Regions from separate parts of the Homo sapiens genome. Here region 1 is reported to be linked to region 2. The links are microRNA targets in miRTarBase. Many come from high-throughput screens and were not tested one by one. Region 2 holds a microRNA gene; the other region holds the end of a gene's coding sequence.

Region 1 (4,000 bases), not on the chromosome of region 2:
AGTTCAGCTTGGGCAACCGTGGTGGCACATACCTATAATCCCTGCTACTTGGGAGGCTGAGGCAGGAGGCTTGCTTGGGAGCCCAGGAGTTTGAGGCTGCAGTGAGCTATGATCATGCCACTGCACTCCAACCTGAGTGACAGAGTGAGATTCCATCTGTAAAAAAAAGAAGAAAAAAATGCTAATCAGCAGAGGGTGACACTGGTAATAAGAGTTTTGAAGAGAAATGCCCATGTAGTGGATTGGAGAAGGAGGCAGCCAGCGTCAAGGGAACAGAAAGGGGGAAGGAGTAGGGAAGAGGCATGTGCACATGACATGCCTAAGACATGATTCACCACTGGGGATTCTGTTCTGAGTAAAATGTTGATAAGGTGGCCACCAACCTTCCCTCAACACACTCACATTCAGGAGGCTGTCCAGAGCTTCAGGAAAAGGTGCTGGCTTGAGGGAAAACAGAAGAGGAAAGTAGGTAAGAAACAGCAGAGGAATGAATAGGAGAGAGGGGTAGTGGTCAGTGAAATTCTCAAAGGATGCTATTGAAACATACAGCTGTGCAATTTTTGAGTGAACTTTTTTCTGTGGGGGAATTGTTTTGGCAGGTGGCGCGATCATCCTGAATACCCATTTCATGATGAATACTGACTGCAGGGAGTTCCTGAACAGATTTTTCACTCCCACGAGTGCCAAGACGGTGCAATGGGTAGTCCCCTAGATGTGAAAATGAAGAGAGAGGGTTTTACCATCCTGAGAAGAAATAATGATGGAAACATGTTTAATGTTTGTGCAGTGTAAATGACTTTGACTCAGTCACATTGAAGTAAAAATATTAAAATCTGTTGAAATAACTCTTAGGAAATTATCAACTAATTTTTTCAGATCAGTATCTTCTAGATTCCAGACAGAAAAAAATTACACTTCAGAAAAGACATCAAAGGCAACATATGACAACAAGTAATTTATGAATCTGGGTAGTAGCGTTGGTAATCTGAGTTCTTTAAGGGTTAACAGGACAACGAAGTGCATGTGGCAGTGTGCTGGCAGTGGCCTTGAGGCTTTGGACCATTGGTTACAAAACAGACACAGCCAAGATAAGATCCACACACACATTATTAACAAGGAAGTGATTTGCTGCACCTTGAGTTGAGAGGGCTACATGTAGAAAAGTCTTAAAATAGAGCTAAACACCACAGTGGTCAACAAAGCCATCATAATGTTGGTGTTTGTTTCCCTCCAATGTATGTATGTTTAGTTTTTATCCAACCTGAGGAATGAAAACTTAACTGGATCTCTCTTGCATCCTTAAAGGGCCTGAGTCTCAACATGGCTGCTGATCCATACTTACACATCTTACTGTCAATCTTGCCTACATTGATTATAGAACCACTATTACGTGAAAAGGCTTGAAACAACCAACATATACAAATAAAACCCTGCCTTGTAAAATAGTAAAAGAGAAGCCATATATTGGCTTTTCTTCTTAACTTGGGAGATATATTGAAACAAGGTGCTTTATAAGATTATTGTACTTAAGACTTTAATAGTGTTACTTGGATAGCTTATATGAATTTTGAGAATTTTATATGAATTTTGAGAAAGCAAGTTCAAAAGAACTCTGGTAATTTTCCTGTATGTACAATTTAAAGAGTGAATAAGATTATTAGAATTCAGCAATAGAGATATATCTATTTTCAATTCAACTACAGAAATATATTTTATTGGCCGGGTGCGGTGGCTCATGCCTATAATCCCAGCACTTTGGGAGGCCAAGGTGGGCAGATCAGGAGGTCAGGAGATCGAGACCATCTTGGCTAACAAGGTGAAACCCCGTCTCTACTAAAAATACAAAAAATTAGCCAGGCGCGGTGGCGGGGGCCTGTAATCCCAGCTACTCAGGAGGCTGAGGCAGAAGAATGGCATGAACCCGGGAGGAGGAGCTTGCAGTGAGCCGAGATAGCGCCACTGCAGTCCGGCCTGGGTGAAAGAGCGAGACTCCGTCTCAAAAACAAAAAAAAAAGAAAAGAAATATATTTTATTCATTCACATTAGGTCACTGTCATACTGTCATAGGATGAGAGAGTTCTTCAAAAATTATGTTTTCCCAAGATCAGTTGCTTATAGATAATGTTCAATGACCTCAAGACATATATTTTTGAGAAATTATCATTTTAAAAAATTTGGTCTATACTGATTGTTTTCACTGATTCCAATATTATTACTTATAACACTGACCTCTGGAAAATATTTTGTTCACAAGAAATAATAAAGTATAATGATTTGTTGCATCACATGAATCTCCATTCTGTTTCTAAGGTTGGGGCAGGGGAAGAATCATCTGAAGCCAGTTAAAAGGCCTTTGATTTAATCCTGCTGTACATTTAGCACTGGGAAGAGAGGAAAGAAAAGGGGATGTGGTGGCTCATGCCTATAATACCAGCAATTTGAGAGGCCAAGGCAGGTGGATGGCATGAACCCAGGAGTTCAAGACCAGCCTGGAACAACATGGCAAAACCCCATCTCTACCAAAAAAAAAAAAAAAAAAATACAAAAATTAGCCAGGAATGGTGGCACACACCTGTAGTCCCAGCTACTCAGGAGGCTGCTATGGGAGGATCACTTGGGTTGGGGAGGCAGAGGTTGCAGTGAGCCAAGATTGTGCCACTGCACTCGAGCCTGGGTGACAGAGTGAGATTCTGTCTCAAAAAAAAGGAAAGATTGAAGGAAGGAAGGGGAAAAAGGAAGGAAGGAAGGAAAAAAGAAAGGAAGGAAGGGAGGGAGGGGAAAGAAAAAGGAAGGAAGGAAGGGAGGGAGGGAGGGAGGGAGGGGAAAGAAAAAGAAGGAGGGAGCCGGGCGCGGTGGCTCACGCCTGTAATCCCAGCACTTTGAGAGGCCGAGGCGGGCGGATCAAGAGGTCAGGAGATCGAGGCCATCCTGGCTAACATGTTGAAACCCTGTCTCTACTAAAAATACAAAAAATTAGCCGGGCATGGTAGCGGGCGCCTGTAGTCCCAGCCACTCGGGAGGCTGAGGCAGGAGAATGGCGCGAACTCAGGAGGCGGAGATTGCAGTGAGCCGAGATCATGCCACTACACTCCAGCCTGGGCGACAGAGCAAGATTCCGTCTCAAAAAAAGAGAAAAAGAAGGAAGGAAAGAAAGAAGGAAGGAAGGAAGGAAGGAGGGAAGGAAGGAAGGAAGGGAGGGAGGGAGGGAGGCAGGCAGAGAGGGAGGTATGGAAGGAGTGACGGAGGGAGGAAGGAAGAAGAAAAAGGTGGTACCATTATGAAAGAGCAGAAACTTGAGTCCTGGTCCCTGTTGTGAAAGTCCTTAAAAATACTTTGAGGGTATTAGTGTAGAGGTGAGAATGGAAACAACACCTATCGAAGCATTTTTAAAAGACAGACATTGGAAAAGAGTCCCATCATTTGTCAGCGAAAAGGTATTTCTAAAAATTGGGGGAGCGAAATCCTCTCTTAGTCATAACAGAGATGGAGGAAAAAGATCTGGAGACAGAAAGTAGGAAGGTCAGGAAAGAACAACAGTCTGATGGAAGCTTCTGCATGTTCCTTCTCCCTCCACTGTCACCCCTCTCAAGCTTCCCATCTGTTATGGGTTGAACTGTGTCCTCTCAAAATTCATATGTTAAAAAGCCCAGACCCCAGTACCTCAGAATGTGATCTTATATAAAAATAGGGCCAGGTGTGGTGGCTCTTGCCTGTTATCTCAGCTATTTGAGAGGCTAAGGTGGAAGGATCACTTGAGGCCAGGAGTTTGAGACCACCCTGGTCAACAGAGTGATACCTTATCTCTACAAAAATTTTAAAATTAGCTGGATATGGTTGTGTACACATGGCTGGTTGTGCACACACATAGCACCCAGCTATTTGGGTGGCTGAGGCAGGAGGACTGTGTGAGCCTAGGAGTTTGAGGCTGAAGTGAGCTATGATCATGCCACTGCACTCTAGCTTGGATGACAAAGCAAGACCTCATCTCTTAAACATAAAT
Region 2 (4,151 bases):
TTTGTTAGCCTCTGGAAACCCACTGGCTAGAACATTGCCTAGGGCACAGAAAACACTTAAAACTTGTATAAATGAATAAAAACACACCATCCTGTCTTTCTCCTTGAGTTTTATCCTGATACTGTAAACTGCCCATTTTCAAAATACTGATCTTGTGCTCAGTCTCTTCTAGTAAACCAACCTTTGAAGCTTCATAGCATCAATTTTTTAAAAGGTATCAGGTACTATCAGAGTAAGGACTTCTTATAACTTCTGATTCCTAAAGACATCAGAATGTTGCTGCACTGAGCTTTTCAATACCCATAACTCCTGGTAGTAACCTCAAGAAGAGTTAGGGCTTATTCTGATAAAAATACAAGAACAAAAAATAAAAGCATTTTACAAAATATTGTCTCAAGGATAAATTACCAATTAGAATATGAAAAGGACTTCTAAAAAGACTGAAATGTCTTCAACCACAAATGTGACAGATTCATGAAACATTTGCTGAACATCAGCCATGTACAGAGCGCTATACTAAAAGAATATAAAAGCTGTTTGAAATATACCATATAAATATGATGTCTGCTATAAACTAATATTGACATTGTATCTTTCCAACCTTTTTAGACACATCTTGTTTCAATTCTTGTACAGGGGACTCATTTCCAACTTTGTATGCAGTGTTCTCTGTTTCCTGTTTGAAAAAGAAAAGAAATAGAGACCAAATGATGACATCTTTTCTTTAAAAATATGCTTTAAAGGGGTACAAATGAGAAAATGTAGCATTAATAAATCAAAGGCCCTTAAAGGGCTTTGATTTCTTCTTCTTCTTTTTTTTTTTTTTTTTTTTTTGAGACAGAGTTTTACTCTGTCACCCAGGCTGGAGTGCAGTGGCACAATCCTGGCTCACTGCAACCTCTGCTTCCCGGGTTCAAGTGATTCTCCTGCCTCAGCCTCCCGAGTAGCTGGGATTATAGGCGCGTGCCACCACACCTGGCTAATTTTTGTAATTTTAGTACAGACAGAGTTTCACCTTGTTGGCCAGGCTGGTCTTGAACTCCTGACCTCAAGTGATCTACCCACCTCAGCCTCCCAAAGTGCTGGGATTATAGGTGTGAGCCACTGTGCCCAGCCTAAAGGGCTTAGATTTCTGAATACTGATAGATGCTCAGAAATTTTATGCCAAATGGGACAATGTAATTTGCATAAGAAAGTTACCCATCAGCAATATTCTATTATTCTGCAATAGGATATTTACCTTTAAATGTGAAAACTTGCTCAACTTTTTAACATTAAAAAACTGTAATGGACGATAAGAACTTCTACGTACTTTTATAGCTAAAAAGGATTAAGGATTTAAGCAAGGGGCTGAATAAAAATTGTTATTTTCCCCAAAGCATTGCTCCATAAATATGCACAAATACAAAAGTTTATAACACAGAAAACCACATTCAGGGAATAGTTTTCTTAAAATTCTACATGCTTTAGATAAAAGAAATCAAGACTTAACCAGAAGTTAAATGAAGCCCCTAAAAAAACTATGAAAAAAGATGAAAAAAATTAAACCCACCAAAAATACATATATATCTACGTATACATTTATATACACATACGTACATATATATATATATTTGGGAGGTTAGAAATGGATACTGCATTTCTGCTGGAAAAAATTAGGGTAAAATAAGACAATCATATATTTGCAAATCTCAATACAATACTCTTCTCAATCTTAAGTTGTCTATTTATAGAAGCACAGCAATTTGAATGCTACTCTTGATACTGAGGAAAAAAAACCATAATTCTTTGTGCACATCACAGAGTTTGTTAGAGGAAGGTCATTATAACCATTTTAGACAGATAAAGGACTCAAGGCACATTAATTATTTAGGTGGCACTTATACAAGTATCAGGATATGATCACAATAGGCTCAATAATGAAATTACTCCAGAGATTATTAAAATGTTAAAGATTTAACGTGCCAGTGAAATTTCTGTAGGACTTGCAATATCTTCGAGCACTGAATTCCTCCCCCAGAATTTGGAGAATACTACCAATCTTACACAGATTCTTCTAGAAAAAAAAAAATGTTTCATGGACTCTTAAGTATTAGATAAAATCCAAACAGTACCAAGGCCCATGAAGGCCTAAACATGACATAGCCTCTGCCTACATTTTTGATATCTTCTACACTCCTCATCTCCCTCTCATATCACTCCCCCACAATTACATTCTGGCCAATAGGATGATTCCTTGCCATTAGGGTCATAGCTCAAGTGCTATTTTATCAGAAAATACTTCCCTGACCATCTCAAAATAGCCTTAGCTGACTCCTTAACTTTCTATCACATTATCCTATTTTTCTTTTTTTTTTTAACTTTAAGTTCAGGGGTACATGTGCAGATTTGTTACACAGGTAAACTTGTGTCATGGGGTTTTGTTGCACAGATTATTTCATCACCCAGGTATTAAGCCTAGTACACATTAGTCATTTTTCCTGATCCTCTCCCTCCTCCCACCCTTCACCCTCTGATAGGCCTCAACATGTGTTGTTCCCCTCTATGGGTTCATGTGTCCACATCATTTAGCTCCCACCTATAAGTGAGAACATGCAGTATTTGGTTTTCTGTTCCTGCATTGATTTGCTAAGGATAATGGCCTCCAGCTCCATCCATGGCCCTGCAAAGGACATGATCTCGTTCTTTTTTATGGCTGCATAGTATTCCATGGTGTATATGTACTACATTTTCTTTATCCAGTCTATCATTGATGGGCATTTAGGTTGATTTCATGTCTTTGCTATTGTGAATAGTGCTGCAATGAACATGTGTGTGCATGTGTCTTTATAATAGAATGATTTATATTCCTTTGGGTATATACCCAGTAATGGGATTGAGGAGAGGATGTCAAACTATCCCTGTTTGCAGACAACATGATCTTATATCTAGATAACCCATAGTCTCAGCCCAAAAGATTCTTAAGCTGATAAACAACTTCAACAAAGTCTCAGGATACAAAATAAATGTGCAAAAATCACTAGCATTATTATACACTAATAACAGCCAAGCAGAGAGCCAAATCAGGAATAAACTCCCATCATTTGCAATTGCCACGAAAAGAAAATACCTATGAATACAGCTAACTAGGGAGGTGAAAGGAGAACTACAAACCACTGCTCAAAGAAACCAGAGATGACACAAACAAATGGAAAAACATTCCAAGCTCATGGATAGGAAGAATCAATATCGTTAAAATGGCCACACTGCCCAAGGCAATGTATAGACTTAATGCCATTACTATTAAACTACCACTGAGATTCTTCACAGAACTAGGAAATTTTATTTTAAAATTCATAGGGAACCAAAAAAGAGCCTGAATAGCCAAGGCAAATCCTAAGCAAAAAGAACAAAGCTGGAGGCATCATGCTACCCGACTTCAAACTATGCTACAGTGCTACAGTTACCAAACAGCATGGTACTGGTACAAAAAGAGACACACAGACCAATAGAACAGAATAGAGAATACAGAAATAAGACCGCACACCTACAACTATCTGATCTTCGACAAACCTGATGAAAACAAAGAATGGGGAAAGGCTTCCCTACTCAATAAATGGTGCTGGGAAAACATTATCCTATTTTCCTTCATTGCACTTATCGTTCGAAATGACCTTATTTACTTGCTTATTTTTTGTCTCTTCCCTGTCCCACTAGAATGTAAGCTCCATGAGAGATGGACCTTGTTTGTTCTATCTACAGTTTGTTCAGTACCTAAAACAGTGTCCAGCACTAAATAATCATTTGCTGAATGAATGTTGAATGATGCATGCTCTGTTTTTTCTTCAGTTAATACATACATCTTAAGTTTACATAGGCTTTAATTGGATCCTGGTTTTATATGAAAGAAGGCCGGGCACAGGCTGAAACCCGGAGTTTGAGACCAGCCTGGGCAACACAGTGAGACCTCGCCTCTAAAAAAAATAATAATTAGCCAAGCATGGTGGTATGTGCCTGCAGTCCCAGCTACTTTGGAGGTTGTTGTGGGAGGACTACTTGAGCCTAGGAGCCTGAGGCTGCAGTGAGCTATGATAATGCCACTGCATTCCAGCCTGGGGAAGAAAGCAAGACCCTGTCTCAAAAAAAAAAAAAAAAAAAGAAATTAAAAAAAA

The links. The annotated mature microRNA hsa-miR-1277-5p reads AAAUAUAUAUAUAUAUGUACGUAU and lies in region 2 at 1,592-1,615, opposite strand. An mRNA with a match to its seed (bases 2 to 7 or 8) in the 3' UTR can be bound and repressed. Matches are read on the target gene's strand: a 7mer-m8 pairs with bases 2 to 8, a 7mer-A1 pairs with bases 2 to 7 and ends in A, and an 8mer does both.
Region 1: miRTarBase lists AKR1D1 as a target of hsa-miR-1277-5p. Seed matches in the 3' UTR shown: 7mer-m8 at 1,460-1,466, 7mer-m8 at 1,490-1,496, 7mer-m8 at 1,706-1,712, 7mer-m8 at 2,023-2,029 and 7mer-m8 at 2,142-2,148.

The regions. Positions count from the first base shown.
Region 1 is chr7:138,116,021-138,120,020 of GRCh38, forward strand. It overlaps AKR1D1 (aldo-keto reductase family 1 member D1), which reads left to right. Exons shown (of 9, transcript NM_005989.4): 9 at 600-2,285. The coding sequence ends at 642. Among named protein-coding and RNA genes, the nearest start is that of MIR4468, 5.7 kb to the right of the region's middle.
Region 2 is chrX:118,383,865-118,388,015 of GRCh38, reverse strand. MIR1277 (microRNA 1277) reads right to left here and starts at 1,622; the gene lies at 1,545-1,622. It overlaps WDR44 (WD repeat domain 44), which reads right to left. Exons shown (of 20, transcript NM_019045.5): 3 at 602-676.